Regions from separate parts of the Homo sapiens genome. Here regions 1, 3, 4, 5 and 6 are each linked to region 2. Evidence: fine-mapped expression QTL. A gene starts in region 2. Each other region holds a variant in brackets. All regions are shown on one strand. Distances are from middle to middle.

Region 1 (4,091 bases), 29 kb before region 2:
GAACATCTAGATGCTTGCTTGTTTTAGTCCCGCTTTATCCACAAAGGGTTTGAGGAGACTCGCACAAAGGAATCATACAATAAAGTAAGAAAACAAAAATTAAAGCAGAAGCAAAGAATTATAAATAGAAGTGGAATTAGCACTAGAAAAGAACAACAAAAATGTGTAGTTAATAGAGGTTAAAAGTCACTAAAAAAAAAAAAGAGCTAAACATTTTCCTGGAAGTTTTTTGTTTTGAGATGGAGTTTTGCTCTGTCACCCAGGCTGGAGTACGGTGGTTTGATCTCGGCTCACTGCAACCTCTGCCTCCCTGGTTCAAGTGATTCTCCTGCCTCGGCCTTCCGAGTAGCTAGGATTACAGGTGTCTGCCACCACACTCGGCTAATTTTTGTATTTTTAGTAGAGACGGGGTTTCGCCATGTTGGCCAGGCTGGTCTCAAACTCCTGACCTAAAGTGATCCGCCTGCCTCAGCCTCCCAAAGTGCTGGGATTACAGTCATGAGCCACCATGCCTGGCCATTTTCTTGGAATCTTTATTTAATATATTTCTGACAATAGATAATTCTGAGATCACAGCACAGCCCTTTTACGGAATATGACATTATTTTCCCAAATCGGAAGAGCTAAAAATTATTAAAAAGCATGGAAAATGTTTTTCCCAAAGTGTTTGGGCTCTGGATTTTGAAGCCAGGTTTGCTTTTTCAACTTTCCTGTATCTTCACACTCCAAGTTCTCAGAAGGCAGCAAATATACTATTTTATTTTACTATTATTATTGAGACATAATTTTACTCATGTAACCCAGGCTGGAGTGCAATTGCACACTGCAACCTCCATCTTCCAGGTTCAAGCAATTCTCCTGCGTCAGCCTCCCGAGTAGCTAGGATTACAGGCACCCACTACCACACCTGGCTAATTTTTGTATTTTTAGTAGAGACTGCGTTTCACCATGTAGGCCAGACTGGTCTCGAACTCCTGACCTCAGGTGATCCACCCACCTCAACCTCCCAAAGTGTTGGGATTACAGGCATGAGTCACTGAGCCCGGCAGCAAATGTGCTATTTTAGATTATTATTCTGTACCCAACTACATAGGAATACATAGCCTTTTTATGTTTTGTTTTTGTTTTTTTAACTTTCCCTTACTATCCACAGTAGTGCCCTCTTATCCAAAGAAAATCTGTTCCAGGGGCCCCAGTGGATGTGTGAAACCGCAAATAGTACCTAACCCTGTAGATACTATGTTTTTGTCCCATATATACATACTTATGATAAAGTTTAATTTATAATTTAGGCACAGTAAAAGATTAGCAACAATAACTAATAATAAAATAGAAGAATTATAACAATATGCTGGAATAAAACTTACGTGAATGCGGTTTCTCTCCTCTCTCTCTTTCTGTCTTAAAATACCTTAATATTTTCAGACTGTGGTTGACTACAGGTAACTGAAACCACAAAAAGCAAAACCATGGATAAGGGGACAGTAGTGTAAGAGCCAGAATCTTGAGCATATAAAAAAATAACAGCAAGTGACTTCATCTCCAAAGACATTTCCTATCTGCATTGGTGGAAGTCAACTGAAAATCAGAAAACTAAAAATACTTAGTAAAGTTACTGCAAGTGACTCATGGCCATAGGTCTTCCTTTATAAGAAGTAAAACTGGATAATGGCTCTTAGGTAAATGTTTTAAATGTATAGACCATCCTCAGGAATTTCTTGCTAAGGCCGTTTAATTTTTAAATAAACTTTGAATCACAGAAAGGCTGTATGATTCAGTTGCACAAATAACAATACAGTATATCTAAAAGGTATTTCCCACACAAGTCTCCCCAGGTCCTTTGAAGATCACACGGTAGACTCTCCAAGAAAAGTCTTGATTTTGGCTACCACGTTTTGTTAATCCAGAGTTGAAAAGAATCAGGCCAGGTGCAGTGGCTCATGCCTGTAAGCCCAGCACTTTGGGAGGCAGAGACAGGCGGATCACTTGAGGCCAGGAGTTTGAGACCAGCCTGGCCAACATGGCAAGACCCCATCTCTACTAATAATACAAAAATTAGCTGGGCGTGGTGGCCCATGCCTGTAATCCCAGTTACTTGGGAGGCTGAGTCATGAGAATCACTTGAATTGGGGAGGCGGAGGTTGCAGTGAGCTGAGATGGTGCCACTGCACTGCAACCTGGGTGACAGGGCAAAATTCTGTCTCAAACAAACAATCAGTGCAGATACCTGTTTTTAGATGGTCTAACCTAGCCTGTTTGGTGTAAAAAAAAAAAAAAGGTAGTTATAACAGAAAAAGGTCTGACAGCCACTAGCAGGGAGCTCAGAGACTTTTCCATTCTGACTCTAGCCCTTGCCTTGCTCTGGTCTGCTGCCTGCCTGGACACCTGCCTGGGAAAGTCAACACCATAATTGATGAAAAGGAGAGTTGTACTTGTAACTAGATTTTGTTTTGATAACTAACTCCATTCCCATACTTGGAACACTAGGTACAACTCTAAGCTATAACAGTGATATGGTTTGGCTTCACGTCCC[C/T]ACCCAAATCTCATCTCAAATTGTAATCCCCATAATCCCTACATATTGAGGGAGGGAACAGATGGGAGGTGATTAGAGCATGGCGACAGTTTTCCCCATGCTGTTCTCATGATAGTTAGTGGGTTCTCATGAGATCTTATGGTTTTATGAGGCAGTTTTCCCTGCTCTCACTTGCCCTCTCTCTCCTGCTGCCATGTAAGACATGCGTGATTCCCCTTCCACCACAATTTTACGTTTCCTGAGGCCTCCCCAGCCAGGCAGAACTATGAGTCAATTAAACCTCTTTCCATTATAAATTACCCAGACTTGGGTAGTATCTTTATAGCAGTGTGAGAATGAACTAATACAAACAGCAATTGCACAGAGGCAGATGATCAATAAATGTCTGCTCAACCAATGAGCAAATATTTCTGTTCTATCCACCCTTCAGTTCCATACTGATGGAATGTAATTTCAGCCACAAGCAAACCTATGTTTTCGTTGGCATTATGTCCTCTTTATAGGCTTGTGACCAATGATCTTTATGCTTCCTGAAATATTAAGAAAAACTGCTTTGATTTACAGATCTGAGGGGGCAACTTCGGTCTTAAGTTCTCAGGGCATAGGAAGGGAATTCAAGGAAATCAGCTTTCCAAACGTGCTAATTTCACCTGCATACATTTCAATTTAATGTTGCAAATGTTTCCTGAGGATCTACTAACTTCAACTGAAGATATGCAGGGAAACGAAGATGAAAAAGAAACAATCCTGGCCCTAGGAGAGGAGCCACCAACACAGTGCCTACCTTAGCACATATATGGTAAGCATTCAATGAGTCACTCATCGTTTTTATATATTCATAGGATACTTACGATACAAAGCAGAGTGCAGTAAATGTCAGGAGAGAGGTACTGATATGGTTTGGCTGTGTCCCCACCCAAATCTTATCTTGAATTGTAGCTCCCACAATTCCCATATGTCATGGAGGGACCCAGTGGGAGGTATTTGAATCATGGGGGTGGGTCTTTCTCATGCTATTCTCGTGATAGTGTTTAAGTCTCACGAGATCTGATGGTTTTATAAAGAGGAATTCCCCTGCACGAGTTCTCTCTTCCCTGTTGCCATGTAAGATGTGACTTTGCTCATCCTTCCCTTCCCACCATGATTGTGAGGCCTCCCCAGCCATGTGGAACAGTGAGTCAATTAAACCTCCTTTCTTTATAAATTACCCAGTCTCAGGTATGTCTTTATCTGGAGCATGAAAATGGATGGATACAGGTACAAAGCAAGTGCCCTGTGAGATCGGTGTGGACAACATTCACTGATACTGGAGGAATGAGAAGGCTTCCTGGAGGAGGTGGCTTGTCACAGAGACATTCTGATGATATGAGCAATGAGGAGCATGTTTCCAGACTTTAAAGCATCCCGTAAAGGCTGATTGTAGGTTGTACATTAGCTTACAGTGAAAAATACTGACACAAGGGCTTGGCCCAGAGGATGAGAACTACATAAGGGCGATCATTAAGTAGGCAGTTGGAATACAGGTTGAAAGCTGGAGAAACCAGAGACCAGGAGACGA
Region 2 (4,091 bases):
CACTAGCCACCTTCTGGCTGGATACTCCGCTACTGACCTCCAAAATACACATTTATTGATCTTTGATTGAATAAACAGACCCTTCCTGACTACCTTGTAATTTCAGCAGCAAATATGACCCAAAACTGGAAGACCCTCTCAATCTATTCTGGTTTGAGGGCTGCCCAATTAAAAAGGAAAAAAACTGGCCCAAAATATCATTAAATGGTAAAATCAGGATCTTATCCTCATAAATCCATAGATTATTACATCCACTAGCGACCTAGAGACCACTTACCTTTTTTTTTTTTTTTTTTGAGACAGAGTCTTGCTCTGACACCCAGGCTGGAGTGCAGTGGTGTGATCTCAGCTCACAGCCGCCTCTGCCTCCCAGGTTCAAGCAATTCTCGTGCCTCAGCCTCTCCAGTAGCTGGGATTACAGGCATGCCCACCACCATGCCCAGCTAATTTTTTGAAGAAAAGAGGTTTCACATGTTGGCCAGGCTGGTCTCGAACTCCTGGCCTCAAGTGATCCACCTGCCTCAGCCTCCCAAAGTGCCGGGATTACAGGTGTGAGCCACCGCGCCTGGCCTGAGACCACTCACCTTAATGTGTCTAGAAAACAGGCAGGCCAGGCGCAGTGGCTCACGCCTGTAATCCTAGCACTTTGGGAGGCCGAGGCAGCCAGATCATTTGAGCCCAGGAGTTTGACACCAACCTGGACAAAATGGCAAAACCCCGTCTCTACCAAAAATACAAAAAAAAAAACAAAAAACAGAAAATAAAAACTAGCCGGGCGTGGTGGTGTGCACCTGTGGGAGACTGAGCTGGGAGGATCACTTGAACGGGGGAAGTGAAGGTTGCAGTGAGCTGTGATAGCACCACTGCACTCCAGCTTTGGTGAAATAATGAGACCTAGTCTTAAAAAGCAAGAGGCCGGGCGCGGTGGCTTACGCCTGTAATCCCAGCACTTTAGGAGGCCGAGGTGGGTGAATCACAAGGTCAGGAGTTCGAGATCAGCCTGGCCAGTATGGTGAAACCCCGTCTCTACTAAAAATACAAAAATTAGCTGTGTGTGGTGGAGCGCGCCTGTAGTCCCAGCCACTCAGAAGGCTGAGGCAAGAGAATCGCTTGATCCCGGGAGGCGGAGGTTGCAGTGAGCCGAGATCGCACCACTGCACTCCAGCCTGGGCAAGGGCGAGACTCTGTCTTTAAAAAAAGCAAAAGAAAACCAACTTGTAGAAAGTCACTGAGCTGGAACCAGAACTAGAATAGGGCTCTACTCTTTCTGGGTCCAAAGTTCTTTAAATCAGCAACCCCTCTTACTGCCTATGTAAGGGTATACCTTTAGTTCCTGTTGACTTGGGATGTACAAAGAATGAGGTAGTCTAAGAGAGTAACAGCACACTGGCTGTGGAGTCAGAAAGACTCCACCTCTAAACTTTGTTTCCATCTCTAAACTTTCCAGCAGTGTGGCCTAATTTTTCTGTACCTTAGCTTTGTCGTTATCACTAGAATCCTTCACAGGGCTGCAGAGTGGATTAAGCAAGAGTGCACAGGACTCAGACATATGACCGCTGGTAATTGGCTTTTATAAACTGTCAAAAAATATAGACCTGTAATGCCAGCACTTTGGGAGGCCGAGGCAGCAGACTGATTGAGCCCAGGAGTTCGAAACCAGCCTGGGCAACATGGCGAGACACTCTCTACAAAAAATACAAAAATAACCGGACATGGTGGCACGTGCCTGTAGTCGCAGCTACTCAGGAAGCTCAGGAGGCTGAGGCAGGAAGTTCGCTTGAGCTCAGGAGGTCGAGGCTGCAGTGAGCTGTGATCGCGCCAAATGCACTCTAGCCTGGGAAGCAGAGCCAGACCCTGAATCTAAAAAAAAAAAAAAAAAAAAGCTTATTAAAGGAGGCTTAGCACAGCTACCCGATGACGCCCCCGGGCATTGCTGTCGAGCCACAGGGAGCTGGCGCCACACGGGACTGGCGCTCTTTGCAACGTCCCTCAAGCACTTAAGGAGAGGCGGCAGGGCCCAAGCGCAGCGGCTAGAAAATCCTTCCTTCCGGCAGGACCCTCGCGTGGAGCTCTGCAGCGAACCCTGGCCGCGCGGCCTCCGCCGTCGGGCCCCACTCTTCCTACTGGGCCCACAGTTCCGGCTCCTGCTCTGACTCCAAGAAGCCTTACCTCGGGTACAACGCGCTGCCTTCTCCCTGGGAACTTCCGGCAGGCCAACTTCCCTGGCCTTTTTAGTCTCCCCTGTGCCCTCCCACTTCGCCCTCTGGTTCTCTCCCCGCCCCTGGCCCGAGGTCACGCCCTCACCGAGTCCTAGGACACGCCCCGTGGGTCCTTGCCAAGCCCTACCTCTTCGTAGGACACGCCCTTCAAACCCTTGCCACGCCCCACCCTGGTCCGGGGCCGTTCCCCGCGTTTTTGCCTGGCCACACCCTCCTGCAGGCGCTGTCTGACTGTCGGTAGTTTGGCTGAATGAAAAAAATTCGGGGCTAGATCCCCAAACGGAAAGAAACTGTTGCATTTTCCCCAGATCCCAGTTCTCCATAGAACAGTCTGGAACAAGGGAGCATTCCGTAGCTCTTTTGGTTTTCCCCAAGAATAAATCGGAGGTGGTGCTCTGGCAATTTGATGTCACAGTGGGTTCTGGATCCTCATGCTGCATACGGAGAACTTTGGTTTTTGTGTTCCCACTTGTCACTGTTTCCTGCCCCGGTGCCGCGTTTCCTTCTCTTTAGAATTAGAGTGCCGTGCTAGAGCACTTGAACTGGCCCTGGTACTTGCTGTGACTGAAATAAACTTAGTATGTGTGAGTCTGTTGGCAAAACATGATGCTTGGAGCAGCTGCCACAGTAAAGAGTCATACCTTTAGGTATTGTAGGGGGCCAAGGGCAAACCTCTCCTTCGTCCTCTGAAAGTTTGCTGAAAATCAACTGACAAAAGACAGTTTCACAGTAGAAAAGGCATACAAATATACTAGATCGTAACTTTATGTGATCCGGGAGCCTTCAGAATGAAAACCCAAAGATGCAGGGGAAACGGTCCATTTTTTCGCTTAGGTTCAATAAAGTATGGACCGCCATGTATTCAGCTGGTGCAAAAGTAATTGCGGTTTTTAATGGCAAAAACCGCAATTACTTCTGCACCAACCTAAGAGATACTACGATGGCATAAAAAGGGTCTGAGCTAATGCCAATAGACTAAGTGAGCAAGCCCTGTCTGTTTAGATTCTTTTTGGCTTTTCTGTGCAGTGTTCCTTCCTTCTGGGTATAGAGCAGGATCCTTTCTGGAATGGGGGTCTTATGACCTACAGTCAAACAAAGCAGGGCAGAGAATTTCTTTACCGCCAGTTTTGACACAGAAAGGCAGGGGACACGCAGAGTCAAACTTTTAGGTTTTATGCTTGGCTTTGGGGATGAGGGGTTCTGGCTTCTGTGAATCACCTTGGGGAAGAGGGATTCCAGTTTCTAGAATGAGGGGCCAGAGGCAGGAGGACATGAGGTTAGAGAGAGCTGCTTCTAAGGCCTTCATTTTGGGGTATCATTTTCTGAACCCCAACCATATTACACTGTCATCAATTATTATTATTATTATTTTGAAATGGCTCTGTTGCCCAGGATGGATTTCAGTGGTGCAGTCATAGCTCACTGCAGCCTTGAACTCCTGGGCTCAAGGGATCCTCCTGCCTCAGCCTCCTGAGCAGCTGGGACTACAGGTGTGCACCACCACACTCAGCTAATATTTGTAATTTTTGTAGAGATGGAGGTCTCGCTATGATGCCCAGCCTGGTCTCAAACTCCTAAGCTCAAAGGATCCTCCCACCTCAGCCTCCCAAAGTGTTAGGACTACATGCATAAGCCACAGCACAAGGCCTAGTCAATTAATTTTATCCTGAATTCTGAGAAAAAAGAGAATAGGTATGCAGATGGGCAGAAGCTACAGATGTCATTTCAAAGGAAAGTAGAGTTTTAATAATAATATTAATAGATGATGTTTATCGGGGCCAACTCTACCAGGTTTTGTAATGGGTGTATGTTATTTTGTTTAAGATTTTGAGCAACCTGCATGTGGCAGGAGCTATTTCCCTCCAATTACAG
Region 3 (4,091 bases), 22 kb after region 2:
TGGTCCTCACATAAGATAGCATCAATAATTTTATTCCTCTATAAATTGGGAAGAGATTAGAAATAAAAACCTTAATAGAAGCACAAGCATGTGTTAGTTTAAATTACTCTAGGGTGTGTAATTTCTGGTGAAAAGTAAATAGTATGTACTGGTTTACAAAGGAAGTACTCATGGAATAGTTTACTAAAGAAAAGTAGATTCATCCATCACACAGTACTTTTCTTGAACATTATTTAAGAATTTATGGGGAAAGATATTGTTCTCCAAAAACCACAACAAACAAGAAATGGTAAAAATGGCACACATTAGAAGCTTAATTTTGTTCTAAAACAATGTAAAAGACATTAATATTTGTCTGTATTTCCTTACACTTTAACATGACTTTCCTCATGCCTGTAATCCCAGCAATTTGGGAGGCCGAGGCAGGCGGATCACTCGAGGTCGAGAGTTTAAGACCAGCCTGGCCAACATGGTGAAATCTTGTCTCTACCAAAAAATACAAAAATCAGTCAGATGTGGTGGTGCATGCCTGTAATCCCAGCTACTTGGGAGGCTGAGGCAGGAGAATTGCTTGAACCGGGGAGGCAGAGGTTGCAGTGAGCCAAGATCACGCACTGCACTCCAGCTTGGGTGACAGAGTGAGACTCTGTCTCAAAAAAAATAAAAAATAAACAAATAAATAAATATGACTTTTAAAAAATATTGCTCAGAACTTTCAAATATTGCTCATAAAAACTATAGTTTTAAAGATGTACAGGTCAAATTCTGCTAAGTGAGAGTTTTGATAAACTCCACTCAGTCTGTTTACTGGAAAAATATACTGGGCATATAGTAAATTTTACGGATTATCATAGTGTGAAAGTATTATATAACATAAATACGAAGCAGATCAAATTGCTATTATTATACTGTAATTCAAATTTCTTTTGGGGGAAAAGTTATAGAAAGCAAGCTGTTCTGATTAGAAAAGGTAGGTCAGGTGTGGTGGCTCACACCTGTAATCCTAGCACTTTGAGGGGCCAAGGCGGGTGGATCACCTGAGGCCAGGAATTCGAGACCAGCCTGGATAACATAGTGAAACCCCGTCTCTACTAAAAATACAAAAATTAGCCAGGCGTGGTGGTGCATGCCTTTAATCCCAGCTACTCGGGAGGCCGAGGCAAGAGAATCTATTGAACCCGAGTGGCGGAGGTTGCAGTGAGCTGAGATTGTGCCACTACACTCCAGCCTGGGCCACAGAGTGAGACTCCATCTCAAAAAAAAAGAAAACATAATAAAACATAACTGTGGCCCCATGCCAGTATGCCAACGAGCCTCACAGTGCCTCTGTCCCCATGCTCCGGTGAAAGAACTGGAGTTTTGAATGCTCATCCTCAAACACTGGCTGACCCTAGATTCATGAGAACAAGCTAAATAATATTTTCTACCTTCTAAGAAAAGAGTTAATGCATTTGGGAAAGTTGTTCAATAACAAGGATTGAAATGAAAATGTTTTCTGTTTAACCCAGAGTTAAACAGAAGTTTATCATTGTTAAAAATTACAAAGCACATTCAAACTGACCACAATACCTTTTAGTGAATATTTATACTAACCCAGGAGAACAGGGACTTTTCAGAAAAAGGATACCACAGGAAAAAGGGTGGGCATAGGATGACCTGGGCCTATGGGTTAAAATGCATATCAGTGGGTTCCGCACCAAGAGATTCTAATGCATTCATTTAGGCTTAATAATTTTCCCAGTCAAAAATCATGACCCCTTGGCCAAGTGTGGTGGCTCATGCCTGTAATCCCAGCACTTTGGGAGGCCGAGGCAGGTGTACCACCTGAGGTCAGGAGTTCAAGACCAGCCTGGCCAACAGGGCGAAACTTCTTTTCTACAAAAAATACAAAAAAAATAGCCGGGTGTGGTGGCACATGCCTGTAATCCCAGCAACTCGTGAGGCTGAGGCATGAGAATGGCTTGAAACCAGGGGAGGCGGGAGGTGGGGGGAGCTGGGGGTCGGAGGTTGCAGTAAGTCAAGATCGCGCCACTGCACTCCAGCCTGGGTGACAGAGGAAGACTCCATCTCAAAAAAAAAAAAAAAAAAAA[AAAG/G]AAATCATGACCCCTGACTGGGGCTGTGACTTATGTCCATAATCTGAGCACTTTGGTAGGCCAAGGCAGGAGAATTGCTTGAGGCCCCAAGTTTGAGACCAGCCTGGGTAACATAGTGAGACCCACCCCCCCCACCCACCTCCTCACCCTCATCTCCACAAAAAATACAAAAATTAGCCAGGCACGGTGGTGCGTGCCTATAGCTCCGGTTACTCAGTGGGCTGAGGCAGGAGGATTGCTTGAGCCACAGAGGTCTAGGCTACAGTGGGTCGTTATTGTGAAACTGTACTCCCAGGCTGGGAGGCAGAGGGAGCTCAAAAAACACACACAAAAAAGCAAAAACAGATGAAGCTACCCCTCCTATCCTCACCCCCACCCCAACTCCCTCTGATGGTTTTCATGCAAGAGGTCTGCAAATGCACTTTGAGAAACTCTGCCTGTATCTTATTGTCAAGTTGTTAATATTTATCTTTATAAAATGTATCCTAAATATATGCATGCAGAATTCTGGATCAGAGATAGATTTCATATCAAACACCTCATAGTAAATGTAATAAGTGCGCTGGTACCCCTAGCTTCAGTCTTACTCCTGAGGTAACGTGATGAGAGCCAGGTCAATTGTCCTACAGGAGAAGGCAAGAACAAGGAAACTGATTTCTCCTGTTCCTAAAAGGGTAGGAGGCAGTTGCCCCCTCCGCTCCTGAGAAAGTCTCCTCCTTATCCAATCCTTTTGTGTGGAAATAAAATCTAGCCAGAAGCTGGATAGCTTGGGTGTCTCTGCCTTAATGATCTTGAGACTTCTTTAAATTCCCAGCCTTGGCAGGATGTGGTGGCTCACACCTGTAATTCCAGCATTTTGGGAGGCCAAGGCAGGCTGATCACTTGAGACCAGGAGTTCGAGACCAACCTGGCCAACATGGTGAAACTCCATTTCTACCAAAAATACAAAAATTAGTTGGGCATGGTGGTGCAGGCCTGTAATTGCAGCTACTTGGGAGGCTGAAGCATGAGAATTGCTTGAACCCTGGAGGCCGAGGTTGCAGTGAGGCGAGATTGCACCACTGCACTCCAGCCTGGGCAACAGAGAGAGACTCTGTCTCCAAAAAAAAAAAAAAAAAAAAAAAAATTCCCAGCCTTGTTTCTCTCTGAAATGCAGATACCTAGAAATGTAGTATTGCTGCTTCTCTTGCAACTTGGGCTCAGCCTAAGGTACCTACTCAGGCTGTAACTCTTTGGTTCACCTGGGGAGATAAGAGAAGTTAGTACTGTTTCCGATCAGAACAATTAACTAGACAAATGGCTACAGATGAAGGCTAGGGCTTCTTATAGAAACACCGAAAAAAATTCAGGGAAGTTTTCTTTTTCGCCTCTTATTTACCAGGAGGAGAAGGAAAGAGAAACTTTCTAGCTGATCAAAGCTGCAGTAGAAGAAATTCTTTCACGTGGACCTTATGATTTAGCAAATTCAATAGTGCCTGTGCTCTATTGGGATGGGTTATGGAACTTGTGTAAAACCCTGGTGGATTTAAGCTGTAAAGCAGCCATTTTTATGAATGGATATCCAGTAACAACAACTGTCAGGAAGGCAGGAAGGCAGGAAGGCAGGTAAGAAGGTCTAAATAGGAGGAAAAGGAGACTAAGCAACAAAGGACAACGGAGCCAGTCCAGGGGCCCAGTATAGTGGCTCATGCCTGCAATCTGAGCACTTGGGAGGTCTGATGTGGGAGGGTCACTTGAGCTCAGCTCAGGAGTTCAAAATCAGCCTGGACAACACAACAAGACCTCATCTGTCTTTAAAAAAAAAAAAGAGCATTTTCTTTCTTTCTTTCTTTCTTTCTTTCTTTCTTTCTTTCTTTCTTTCTTTCTTTCTTCCTTCCTTCCTTCCTTCCTTCCTTCCTTCCTTTCTTTCTTCCTTCCTTCCTTCCTTCCTTCCTTTTTTTCTTTCTCTTTCTCTCCCTTCCTCCCTTTCTCTCTCTCTCTTTTTCTCCCTTTCTCTCT
Region 4 (4,091 bases), 860 kb before region 2:
CAAAATTCTTATTATTATAACTCATTTTTAGCTAGCTTTTAAGCAGCCTACATGGTCTCTGGATGCAAATTAGAAAATTGAGCAAGAGATGAGAGTCAGCAGATTTTCTCTTCCAAAATATCATTCAACACATTTACTGCAGTGAATCAAACAAAACAGAATTCTTTGGTCTTCAGAAGTCTTTGGTTTCTTCTGTATGCCTTAAGAAAATGTCAGGGTCATTCATTTTTGTCACAGCCTTTCTCAGGATTATTACAAAACCCTGGAAGGTTTTAGGGTTCCCCTGTCTTCTCTCCATTTCCAGCAAAGGGGTGAACACTGGTTTTTAACACATCTTCAAGCAGAGGACTCTATAGGCTTCCTATGACATGTATTCCAAGGATGTTTTTCTTTCTTCTGCATAATAAAATTTGGAATCAATGAATTCTGACCTTAAGGACTTCACTACATTTACTGGTCGAGCCACGAACCTGGAAGTATTTTGTGAGCTCTCAACCTTGGCACTGTTGCAAGGCAAGTGACATGGTTTTGCTGTGTCCCCACTCAAATCTCATCTTGAACTGTGGCTCCCATAATTCCCTTGTGTTGTGGGAGGGACCTGGGAGGAGATCATTGAATCATGAGGGCAGTTTCCCCCATACTGTTCTCATGGTCGTGAATAAGTCTCATGAGATCTGATGCTTTTATAAGTGGATACCTCTTTCACTTGGTTCTCATGCTGTCTGGCCTGCCGCCACGTAAGACATGCCTTTCACCTTCTGCCATGATTGTGAGGCCTCCCCAGCCACGTGTAACTGTGAGTCCATTAAACCTCCTTTTCTTTATAAATGACCCAGTCTCAGGTATGTCTTTATCAGCAGCATGAAAACAGAGTAATACAGCCAGACACAAAAACAAACCAGCCACATTACAGCATCCCATCACAGGTAACAAGTTTGACTTTTCATTCTAGTTCCTCAGTAGAAAGGCAGTAAAATTGTATGTATAATATTAGGCACTTGGAGGTATGACCTGTCAACCTCTGAGACAACGGGGATGGCAAAGCACCTCCGTTTAATAAAGAGCAGTATGAACTGGCACTTCTGACATTAAATATAACATCCATCTTTCCCCAGACACTTCACGGAAGCTAGATTCCTGATGAGACAATGATGTCATTCCCATTTTATTTTTCATAGATCTACAGTCTCAAAGCTTAAAGCTGGCATATTTTTTTTGTTCCCAATATTTCAACCATATGTCAGATTCACGGAGTTGATGAACTCAAGTCCCTTGGCATGCTGAGGGCTCTGCCTGCTTAGCCACCCGCCAGGTCTCAGAAGAGAGCTCAGAGATGCCTGCCCTAAGAGGTTGGCTGTCCTCATCTCTAAAGTTCTCTCTTTCATTCCCCCAAATCAACAAACCAGTGATGACTACTTTGTCCAAGACAAGATGGGAGGGGAGGACATTTTAAAGGCAGGATGGGGCTGGACATCGTGGCTCACACCTGAAATCTCAGGACTTTGGGAGGCCAAGATGGGAGGATCGCTTGAGCCCAGGAGTTCAAGACCAGCCTGGACAATGTAGTGAGACTGCATCTCCACAAAAAGTTTAAAAAATTAGCCCACTGTGGTGGCACACACCTGTAGCCCCAGCTACTTGGGAGGCCCAGGTGGTGGGATC[A/G]CTTGAGCCCAGGAGTTTGAGGCTGCAGGGAACCACGACTGCACCACTGCATTTCAGCCTCGGCAACAGAGCAAGACTCTGTCTCTAAATTTAAATAAATAAATACTAATTTTAGATGCAGTTAATTATTTCTTTGAGTTGCCTTGCCCATAAGGCTGTGGGGTAAATGAGCCATGAAAAGTGAGAAGCACATAGGGTCTCAACACATGTAGCCATAGCTGTTTATTACTATTATTATTATCTCACACACATTTCTGTTTTTTTTTTTTTATTTTGAGACAGGGTCTTGCTCTCTTGCCCAGGCTGGAGTGCAATGGAACAATTACAGCTCACTGGAGCCTTCAGCTCCTGAGCTCAAGCAATCTTTCTGTCTCAGCCTCCCAAGTAGCTGGGGATACAGGTGCACACCACCATGCCCAGCTAATTTTTGTTTTTTGTGTTTTTTTTTTTTTGTAGAGATGGGGTCTCACTATATTGTCCAAGCTGGTCTCCAACTCCTGGCTTCAAGCAATCTACCTCCCTCAACTCCCCAGTGTGCTGGGATTACAGGTGTGAGCCACTGTGCCAGGCCTACACATTCCTTTTATAACCTCTAAAAGTGTGGAACAGAGATGTGTCAATGAGAACATCCTAAAAGCTGACGGTACGCAAATGTAACTTGTAGTGAAATAAAGTCAATATTATATATGTAAAGAGACTTCTGCCATTATATTTAAACTGCAATTAATCAAGACTACATCGTAAAGCATCTTATTCTTTTTTCTTTTGAGGTATATAAATGGTTGTCTTTTAGTTTTGATTTCCAAGCGCAGAAATTTTTAGTAGGCACCCTGGACTTCCCCTACATTATTTTTGTTCCAGGGAAATGCAGCTTCTCATAGGTTCTAGAAATCTATACTTGAATGAAGTCATTTTTCAAAATAAAATAATAGAACTGTTTTCAAAGATATATTCAAATGACTGGATTTTTAAAATATTAATCGACATTCAAGAGAGGCAAAATTAATGCACTGTTTTTAAAGTATAAGTCAAGTATTGTTAAGATATTTCAGTCAGGCCAGGTGCAGTGGCTCATGCCGGTAATCCTAGCACTTTGGGAGGCTGAGACAGGAAGATCACTAGAGCCCAGGAGTTTGAGACTGGCCTGGGCAACATGGCAAGACCCTGTCTCTACAAAAGATTAAAAAGTTAGCTGGGTGTAATGGCAAGCACCGGTAGTCCCTGCTACTTGGGAGGCTGAGAAGGGAGGATTGCTTGAGCCCAGCAGGCTGCAGTGAGCCATGTTCACACTGCTGCACTCTAGCCTGGGTGACAGAACAAGAACTCGTCTCAAAAAAAAAAAAAAAAATCCAGGCCACGTGTGGTGGCTCACGCCTGTAATCCCAGCACTTTGGGAGGCTGAGGCAGGTAGATCACCTGAGGTCAGGAGTTTGAGGCCAACAAGGTGAAACTCCGCCTCCACTAAAAATACAAAAATTAGCTGGGCCTGGTGGCAGGCGCCTGTTATCCCAGCCATTCAGGAGGCTGAGGCAGGAGAATCACTTGAACCTGCGAGGCAGAGATTGCAGCCAGCTGAGATTGTGCCATTGCACTCCAGCCTAGGTGATGAAGCGAGACTCCATCTTAAAAAAAAAAAGCCCAATAACTACTTTGTGTTTAAATCCTTGAAAAAGTATAAAGATGCATTTGGTTCATTTGGCGACTAAGTAATGTTTTAAGGAACGAGCAAAGACATCTTTTTATTCTGTGTTTATGGTTTCTCTGCCAATGTGATTCCCTCAAAAACTTAAGAAAAGTCTCTGAAATTTTACTTCCTATCAGTTGCTTGTGTTAGTAACCAAACCTGTGTTCTTTCCTAGATGTAATCATCAAGACCAGTTAATTTTTTTTTTCTATCTCTCCTGCCTCTTTTTTTCCACTTATTTTTAATTACCTTAAGGCTGGCGGGGCGCGGTGGCTCACGCCTGTAATCCCAGCACTTTGGGAGGCCAAGGTGGGCAGATCACGAGGTCAGGAGATCAAGACCATCCTGGTTAACACTGTGAAACCCCCGTCTCTACTAAAAAAAAATACAAAAAAATTAGCCGGGCGTGATGTTGGTCACCTGTAGTCCCAGCTACACAGGAGGCTGAGGCAGGAGAATGGCGTGAACCCAGGAGGCAGAGCTTGCAGAGAGCCGAGATCGCGCCACTACACTCCAGCCTGGGAGACAGAGCGAGACTCCGTCTCAAAAAAAAAAAAAAAAAAAAAAAAAAAATTACCTTAAGGTCGTGCAATGTAGATAAGGCAGGAGGGAAGGCTTGGAAAAGTTGTCATGCTGAATCAAACTTTTGGCAAAACTGTCACTGCTACAAATTGGGAAGAAGACCACATGCCTACTAGAACTGTAGCTTTGAGGAAAGAACTTGGAAATCAGAACATTAGAAGTG
Region 5 (4,091 bases), 780 kb before region 2:
GGCAAGGATTGAAAGACCACCTATCGAGTACTATGGTCACTATTTGGGCAACGATATCATTAGAAGCCCAAACCTCAGTATCACACAACATACCTATGTAACAAACTTGCACATGTACCCCCTAAATCTAAATTAAAAAAAAAAACTATAATACTATACCTAAAAATAAGTTAAATTTTGTTGAGAAAAAAAATGATCCTATCTACTTGGGGGAGAACAGAAAATGTCATTAGAAAAGATAGTATTTGAAGAATAAGTACAATTTCTACAGCTTATCATGGCAAAGAAAGGTTGCTCTAGTGCTGACCAAACAGTATAAGCAAAAACTGGGTGGGTGGCAGAGTGCTGAGGACATTTAGGGAACAGGAATAATCCCAGGGTTGCTGGATTATGGAGTATTTGTAGGGGAGAAAGGGAACTGAAAGTTAACGTGGGGCCATGCGTTGGATGAGTAAATGCCAGGAAAAGGAGTTGATAATTAATGTGGTGGGCAGAGGGAATGCATTGTGAATTTCAACTAGGAGAAAGACATGCTTGTAGCTGTATTTTAGGGGTGGAGAATGAGGCTGATTTGAGGTCTGCTTGAGGTAGATCAAGTGGATGGTAAAGGGAGCCTGACGCGGAGATGATTTAAGGAATTGTGATGTTTAAGGGCTAGGGGATAAGAAAAATCGAGTGGGCTCTGAGCCTTGTGAACAGGATAATTAAAAGAATAGATGCGGCTGGGCGCAGTGGCTCACGCCTGTAATCCCAGCACTTTGGGAGACCCAGGCGGGTGGATCATGAGTTCAAGAGATGGAGACCATCCTGGTTAACATCGTGAAACCCTGTCTCTACTAAAAATACAAAAATTAGCTGGGCCTGGTGGTGCCCGCCTGTAGTCCCAGCTACTAGGGAGGTTGGAGCAGGAGAATCACTTGAACCCAGGAGGCGGAGGTTGCAGTGAGCCGAGATTGTGCCCCTGTACTCCAGCCTGGCGACAGAATGAGGCTCCATCTCAAAAAAAAAAAAAAAAAAAAAAAGAAGAAAAAAGAAAGAATAGATGCATTCCAGACAGAAATAATTAGTTGGAAAGTTAATTTGAGTTGAAAGACGGTTAATTCAGGTCCCTTAACCTGGAAATATCTTCCCTTCTCTAGTCTATATAAATTATAGTCTCATGAAGGTGAGCTATAATTGGATAGTGTGGTTTTACATTATGCAGCAGTGGTCTCCAGCCTTTTTGGCACCAGGGACCGATTCCATGGAAGACAATTTTTCCATGGACCAGGCAGGGGGATGGTTTCAGGATGATTCAAACATTTCTATTATTATTACATTGTAATATATAATGAAATAATTATACAACTCACCATAATGTAAAATCAGTGGGAGCCCTGAGCTGGTTTTCCTGCAACTATATGGTCCCATCTGGGGATGATGGGAGACAATGACGGATCATCAGGCGTTATGTTCTCGTAAAGAGCGCACAACCTGGATCCCTGGTATGCACAGTTCACAGTGGGGTTCACGCTCCTACAAGAATCTAATACCCACCGACCACTATCAGACCATAGCCCAGGGTCTACAGCATTTCTAAGCACTTCTAATCTCTTCCCTTAAAGGAATAAAGTAGATGGTCTTTTATTGTCATTTAGCTGCTTTGAGTGTGTTAGTCTTGTTCCCATAGCTAGTATAAAATCATGAACATCACGATTCTCTAAAACAGTGTTTAAAACATCAGAAGGGAAAGAAAAACCTTAAAGACACTTTCTGGGAGGTATCTTTGAACATTTGAGGGGGAAAACATAGCTAACAATTCCCTGTAGACTATAAGTGATTTTTTAACTTCATCAATGTCTAATTCACAGTCTATGACAGAGGAAAGAGAAGGTGGTAAGTATGTAGGGGGAACACAAGAGTTTAATTAACAAATGGAGGAGAAATCTAGTGCAAAAATAAGTTCCAGCTGATGTTGGACAAAGAATTAAAGCCAGATTTTCAGTATTAGTTCACTTGATCAAAAAACAGTAACAACCAAAAACAAACAAAAAACCCATCAATCCAGTTATAAAAACCTCATGTCACTTGAAAGAGCCCTGAATGACATCATCCCAGTTTAGTTACTGGCTGAGTTAGACTACCATAAGAAAACTAGCAGGTATTTGCCCAGTGGCCTATAATGTTGTTTTTCCTTTTTTTTTTTTTTTTTTTTTTTTTTT[TG/G]TAGACAGAAAAAGATTATGCCACAGCTAGAAAATTTGCCAAGTGCAATTGGCGTCTTGGGAATTTACTCTGCCTACTTTGAGGAGGTCATGTAGTTCCCCAGTGGTAGAATTTTTTTTCTCAAGATATTTAGGTAAGGGACCTAATAATAATTTTGTTTAATAGCACAATTTTCTTTTTTAACTTTTATTTTAGGTTCAAGGGTACATGTGCAGGTTTGTTATGTAGGTAAATTCGTGTCATGTGGGTTTGTTGTATGGCTGATTTCATCACTCAGGTATTAAGCTTAGTATCCAATAGTTATTTTTTCTTATCTTCTCCCTCCTCCCACCCTCCACCCTCAAGTAGGCCCCAGTGTCTATTGTTCCCCTCTTTGTGTCCATGTGTTCTCATCTTACCTCCCACTTATAAGTGACAACATGCAGTATTTGCTTTTCTGTTCCTGCATTAGTTTGCTAAGGATGATGGTCTCCAGCTGCATCCATGTTCCTGCAAAGGACATGATCTCTTTTTTTTTTTTTTTTTTTGAGACAGAGTCTCACTGTCTCCCAGGTTGGAGTACAGTGGCACGATCTTGGCTGACTGCAACCTCTGCCTCCCAGGTTCAAGCAATTCTCCTGCCTCAGCCTCCCAAGTAGCTGGGATTAGAGGTGCATGCCACCATGCCTGGCTAATTTTTGTGTTTTAGTAGAGACGGGGTTTCATCATATTGGCCAGGCTGGTCTCGAACTCCTGACCTCAGGTGATCTGCCCACCTTGGCCTCCCAAAGTGCTGGGATTACAGGCGTGAGCCACCGTGCCTGGCTGATGTTCTTTTTCATGGTTGCATTGTATTCCATGGTGTATATGTACCACATTTTCCTTAGCCAGTCTCCTATTGATGTGCATATCAGTTTATTAATTTTCTTTTAAAGAACAGATAAATTTATAATGTAAATTTTTATTTGCCTTTATGGTAACCTGCGACATTGGAAGGGGATTATTGACCATCTATATAGTCATAATCTCTTTCCTCTAAATCTGCAAAATATAATGGAACTCCATCTTATGTATTTCAAAACTGATTAATGAATTGACTGATATTTTCAAAAATGGACAATTGGGAGATACTTTAACTCTGGCATATCACATTCACTCAGCCAGTGAAATGATTTTCTTCAGTATATTAAATATTATATTTAATTGTGAATATGTTTGATAAACTCAGAGTTTAAAATAAACCTCTCAAGCTTTGGTTTTTGTGTATAGTGACAAAGATCAGTGTGATTTGCAGAGGTTGGAAATGAAAATCAAAGACAAATTCTAGAAAAAAAATAACACAAAGTAACCCTAAATGAAGCCATGTAGCAAATGGAAGGAAATATAAAATGACATAATGACAATATGCAAGGATGAAAAGATAAGAAAATTCATTAACATTACAATGAGATATAAGTAAAGAAAGACCATTCAGAGTTAACTAGCAGAATAAAGGATTTGGCAGCCCTCTTTGTAATTCTACCATGACGATTTCCAAACCACTGAATAAGGTTTTGTATTTCTAATTAGCTAAGTACTAGAAATATGTTCTCTAATGTGACTCATATGGATATGTGGCATATGGACAAAAAAATTCTGTGGTACTCAAGCTTAATATAGATTAAGTACATGTTGTTTGAGACATAAATTATGAGAAGTTTTTCCGATACAATATTGTAATTTACTTGAATGGCATCTCTAGAACTTCAGACAGGTGTGATAGAATACGCTGCAGAGATATTTATGTGTTTGATCAGGGTTTTTCTTTTTCTTTTTTTAAGACAGAGTCTCACTCTGTTGCCCAGGCTGGAGTGCAGTGGCACTATCTCAGCTCCAACCTCTGCCTCCCAAGTTCAGGCGATTCTCCTGCC
Region 6 (4,091 bases), 76 kb before region 2:
TCAAATCAAGCCACATATTTAGAATCTCCTAAGTGTAAGTGGATATTCAACGAAATCATTCAAAAATTCTTGAAACTTGAGAGGCCTCAGAGCATGAAAATTTAGTCCTTTCTTTAACTTTTAGATATGTTGAGGTTAAATTCTTGATTTAAATGCACATGTCATAGTTAAGTAATAAAAAGACACGATGGAAAAAAGAACTCTGAAAACTCAGGTGATATAATCAAAGATGTATAAATGAGCTAAGCTTCTGAAGCAGCCTGGTAAAGGGGGCTTTACATGAATTAGATTTGGAAAGCCCTAAATCAAAAGACTTTTTCTTTTTTTTTTTTTTCTTTGTAAGTAGTAGAGGAGTTGGTATTTTCCTGGGTATTTTTAGCTATTACATACCTCAATTTTCTAATAATTGTGGTGAACAGCTGAACTTAGACTTGAACTTCTGTACTCATAAACAGCTGATTAGAATATTGCTATCTGGCTTAAATTAAAATGCAAAAAATACTATTAGTTTCATTTCAAAATGTGATTGGGCATAGGGATCGAAGGAGTTAGAAAAACGAGTGATACAGGAAGATAATAAATTGTATGCATAGTTTAGAATGTGTAGTTAGATAAGACTGCCAGAATGGTCCCCACTGAAGCACTATTTTGTCCCTTTCTGTCCTCCTTCTCACTAACGTAGCGGAAACTGCCACAGCACTATCCTCATAAAGCTCTGAGGTCAACATGGACTTTGCTATGCTAAATTCTGTACTATGGCAGCAAGTCAGCTTGTGATGCTACATGAATGGCAAAAAAGAAAACTTGAGAATTCTCATTTACGCATCCTAATTCTTGTCTGTTTCACATAGGTGCGTGCTAGTGCAATTGCCCAAGATGCTGATCAGAATTACGACTATGCCAGTAACAGTGTGGTTCTTCATTTGGAGCCGGGAGATGAAGTCTATATCAAATTAGATGGCGGGAAAGCCCATGGAGGAAACAACAACAAATACAGCACGTTTTCTGGATTTATTATTTATGCTGACTGATAATGCAGAAACTAAGCTTATTATTCTGAGTTTGAACACTGGATTCGTATGGCTAACGTCAGTGAATCAAGGATCCCAGGGGATGCCAATGGCAGGGCACCTCAGTTGTGTATATGTGGGGAAATCAAATGCTACCTGACTCACATCTGTATCACTCAGAAACATTATGTAAAAAATATCAAAGCAAGATAAGCAGATGTGTGATCCACTACCGCCAAAGCAAATACTCCTTATCGTTAGTGTCCATGTGAATGAAGTCCTATATAGATCACAAATTTTTATAGACAAATCTAAGACATTGAATTATTTCTTCTATATATATGATACTTTGGTGTACTGTGATCTTGCTGCTTTTATCCATATGTCAGCTTTGGTTCTTGTGAGTTTACCTGCTTATTATGATACTTGGAGTCCATTCATAGTGTGGGGAAGAATGATTTTTGCCCTGCAGGAGAAGGTCTAATTGAAATAATGCTGCTTGTCCCCAAAGAAATTGTTTGCCTTGTACTCTTGTTAACCTTAGAGCTAGACCTGGGAATGATTCAACTTCAAGCCTTAACCTGGAATTTTCTGGATTTGAGGGAATTCCCAAGCCTATGATCTTTTTCACATTTTCTTTTTCTTATATGAATTTTCTTTTCTCTCTTTTCTGGTGATAGTCTTTAAAAATAGAGATTGACAGTGTATCATAGGATTACCCTCTAAGTGTGAAAATGTGTAATTATGTACGGTATTTAGAAAAAGCCCTTATGTGTCCATTTTGTCAACTGAATACATTTAGATTCACTGGGAAAGTCAGAGAAATTTATTCTTTAGTATCAAATCAAACCGAGGCTTTTGCCATCTTTGGAAGAAAAGATTATTCATAACCCAATGCACAAAGGTTTAATTTGAGCTGCTGCATACGTCACCAAGGGGACACTAGGTGAGGCCTTCAAATGATTACTACAAGTCTGTGGCCTGAGGTTATTTTAAAATTAACAATTTCGCATATAGCCTATATGACAACAGAGTGTTTATATTTTATACAAATATCTGCTAAACATGCACACATATACTCACACACACATATATATATTAGATGAAATGTTTTATTTATGTATAAAACATATACATATAAAACATTTATATATATGGCTTTATTCCACAGGGCACAGTGGCTGTATAGCCTCAAAATTTTAATATAAAAAAGTG[T/C]ATGCATATATACACACACAAACATGCACAAATTATTTAACTTATTTTGGGTTAAAATATATTTTGAATGACAATATATGGAGTAGCAAAAACAGTTAAAATGACTTCTCTTTAAGAGTTATCCAGAAAATTAATTGTATTAGGTCAAAATGCCCTTTATTTCACAGGTCTGTAAGTTAAGGCTATGGTTGCTCTATTACCATATGCCAATCAATACTTTAACTGCATTCTGTGACAGACTGTTAATATGAGGACTGCAGACACCAAGTGGCTCTCCTTTGCAGTGTTTATGAATTACATGCATTTGAGCTATCAATTTTTTTTTCTTTTTTCTCAGGTGGAGTGAAGCTGACAGTACAGTAGATTTGGAGAGTAATACAAATCCTTTCTTTCTGGTTAGAACACACTGCCAAAAGCCATCTCTTTCATCTAAGGAAAAGATTAAAAATGCATGTTGATATCTCCTAACTATCACACAACTTCCACTATTACAATGAAAAATCTGTTCCCCTTTCATTGCCTCTGAAAACTCTTTGACGAGTAGATTTCAAAAACAGAGATTTTAAAAATTTGCTTGCTTTACTGGTGAAGGACATTTGCATTTTTTTTTTTTATTTATTTAAAGGAATTAGTTTGTTCTCCTGGCTCATTCCTCTTTGTTACTTTCTGTTCCAATACACAGAAAGCTTGATCATCTTTGATCAGCAGAAATATCTTTTATTTAGCAAAGCTCAACTTCCCAAGAGTTATGCATGGTGTGCCTATCTGAAGGTGGTGTTAGCTCTGTTGAAATGCCTGGGTCTGAGTAACTGTCATGATTTTTATGATTAAAAACAGACTCTTCATCAAGAATAATGACTAATTCTAATTGGTCTTTGTGATATGTAAGATAACTCATAAATGAATTGCAATGGATTTTATTTCGAATTAACTATATATTTATCAAAGAGGAACTGGCAGCAAGGGTTTGGAGAATATTTTTAGGTACCAAATAGCATAGTGAGGATTCAACCAAAAGATGAATTTATAAGCAGCAGTGCCCATCACCTAAGTGTTTTAACTAACAGGTTTTAAAAACATTTTATTTACACAAAATATCAGGGCTGGATACCTTTTAAAGAGGAGGCTCAAGTATCGGGCTGTCATTTCCAATAGATCTGACCTTTTCTTCAGATACATAAGCATTATTTTCTCTGTTTAGGTCCAAGGAAAAACAAAAGGTAAAGGAAATAAAGGGAATATACATAAGGCAAACATTTCTCTTTTTTTTTTTGCATTATATCTTACCAATTAATTAAATTGTGGCCTTTGTTATTATAAATGTAATGATTCATTAAACTATATTATGTAATATATTTTGACTTTTATGATTGAATTTTTATAATTCAGTAGTGTTATGTGTTCTTATACAAACTTTGCAAAACAGCAAAATGTATGGCAAAAATAGATACCGGAAAGCCAAAGATATCAAAATCATTTCAGTAGAAGAATATATAGATAGGTGGACAGTATAAAATTAACCTTTCAAAATATTTTTATCATTGTGAATTGGTAATTGTATTACAGTCAGTATCCTTTGGGGAAAAAAGTCTCAAAATTTAACTTCCCTTGTTGCAGAAGCTATTTTACAGTGCCATATTATTCATTAAGCATTAATTAAAGAACAGCAGGATAATTAGTAGGATCATCAATATTACAAGAAACATTAGATCGCTCAAGAAGGAAATAATTTAACTAGAAACACTTTAAATTTTCTCAAGTAGTGCAGCTGATAGATTAGGGAGAAAAACAACAACTCCGCTTAGGGGATATAGACTTTAAATCATTGTTTAGAAATAGGTACTTCTGTATTTATTTTGTTAAGTT

Alleles and levels. Positions count from the first base shown, and alleles are read on the strand shown. Sizes are in standard deviations (SD) of each study's normalised expression. Not every link is listed here.
For the expression in B cells of the gene that starts at base 2,207 in region 2, TG is the high allele of the variant in region 5 and G is the other (large effect, 1.9 SD a copy in CEDAR).
For the expression in thyroid of the gene that starts at base 2,207 in region 2, T is the low allele of the variant in region 6 and C is the other (moderate effect, 0.57 SD a copy in GTEx).

Evidence for each region.
Region 1: its variant is fine-mapped to the expression of PTER in whole blood (INTERVAL, PIP 0.92).
Region 3: its variant is fine-mapped to the expression of PTER in whole blood (INTERVAL, PIP above 0.99).
Region 4: its variant is fine-mapped to the expression of PTER in sun-exposed skin (GTEx, PIP 0.96).
Region 5: its variant is fine-mapped to the expression of PTER in B cells (CEDAR, PIP 0.95).
Region 6: its variant is fine-mapped to the expression of PTER in thyroid (GTEx, PIP above 0.99).

The regions. Positions count from the first base shown.
Region 1 is chr10:16,464,487-16,468,577 of GRCh38, reverse strand. The region is part of intron 1 of PTER (phosphotriesterase related); the gene reads right to left. Among named protein-coding and RNA genes, the nearest start is that of PTER, 30 kb to the right of the region's middle. RefSeq lists a silencer at 2,481-2,681. The variant C/T (reference allele first, on the strand shown) is at 2,534.
Region 2 is chr10:16,435,126-16,439,216 of GRCh38, reverse strand. PTER (phosphotriesterase related) reads right to left here and starts at 2,207. Exons shown (of 5, transcript NM_001261836.2): 1 at 2,170-2,207. RefSeq lists enhancers at 1,613-1,662, 1,683-1,862 and a silencer at 2,283-2,332.
Region 3 is chr10:16,412,714-16,416,804 of GRCh38, reverse strand. No RefSeq gene overlaps it. Among named protein-coding and RNA genes, the nearest start is that of PTER, 22 kb to the left of the region's middle. The variant AAAG/G (reference allele first, on the strand shown) is at 2,091.
Region 4 is chr10:17,294,564-17,298,654 of GRCh38, reverse strand. No RefSeq gene overlaps it. Among named protein-coding and RNA genes, the nearest start is that of VIM-AS1, 67 kb to the right of the region's middle. The variant A/G (reference allele first, on the strand shown) is at 1,663.
Region 5 is chr10:17,218,862-17,222,952 of GRCh38, reverse strand. All of the region lies in intron 1 of VIM-AS1 (VIM antisense RNA 1), which reads left to right. Among named protein-coding and RNA genes, the nearest start is that of VIM, 7.3 kb to the left of the region's middle. The variant TG/G (reference allele first, on the strand shown) is at 2,202.
Region 6 is chr10:16,511,468-16,515,558 of GRCh38, reverse strand. It overlaps PTER (phosphotriesterase related), which reads right to left. Exons shown (of 5, transcript NM_001261836.2): 5 at 1,814-4,091. It overlaps C1QL3 (complement C1q like 3), which reads left to right. Exons shown (of 2, transcript NM_001010908.2): 2 at 852-1,825. The coding sequence ends at 1,031. Among named protein-coding and RNA genes, the nearest start is that of C1QL3, 8.4 kb to the left of the region's middle. The variant T/C (reference allele first, on the strand shown) is at 2,226.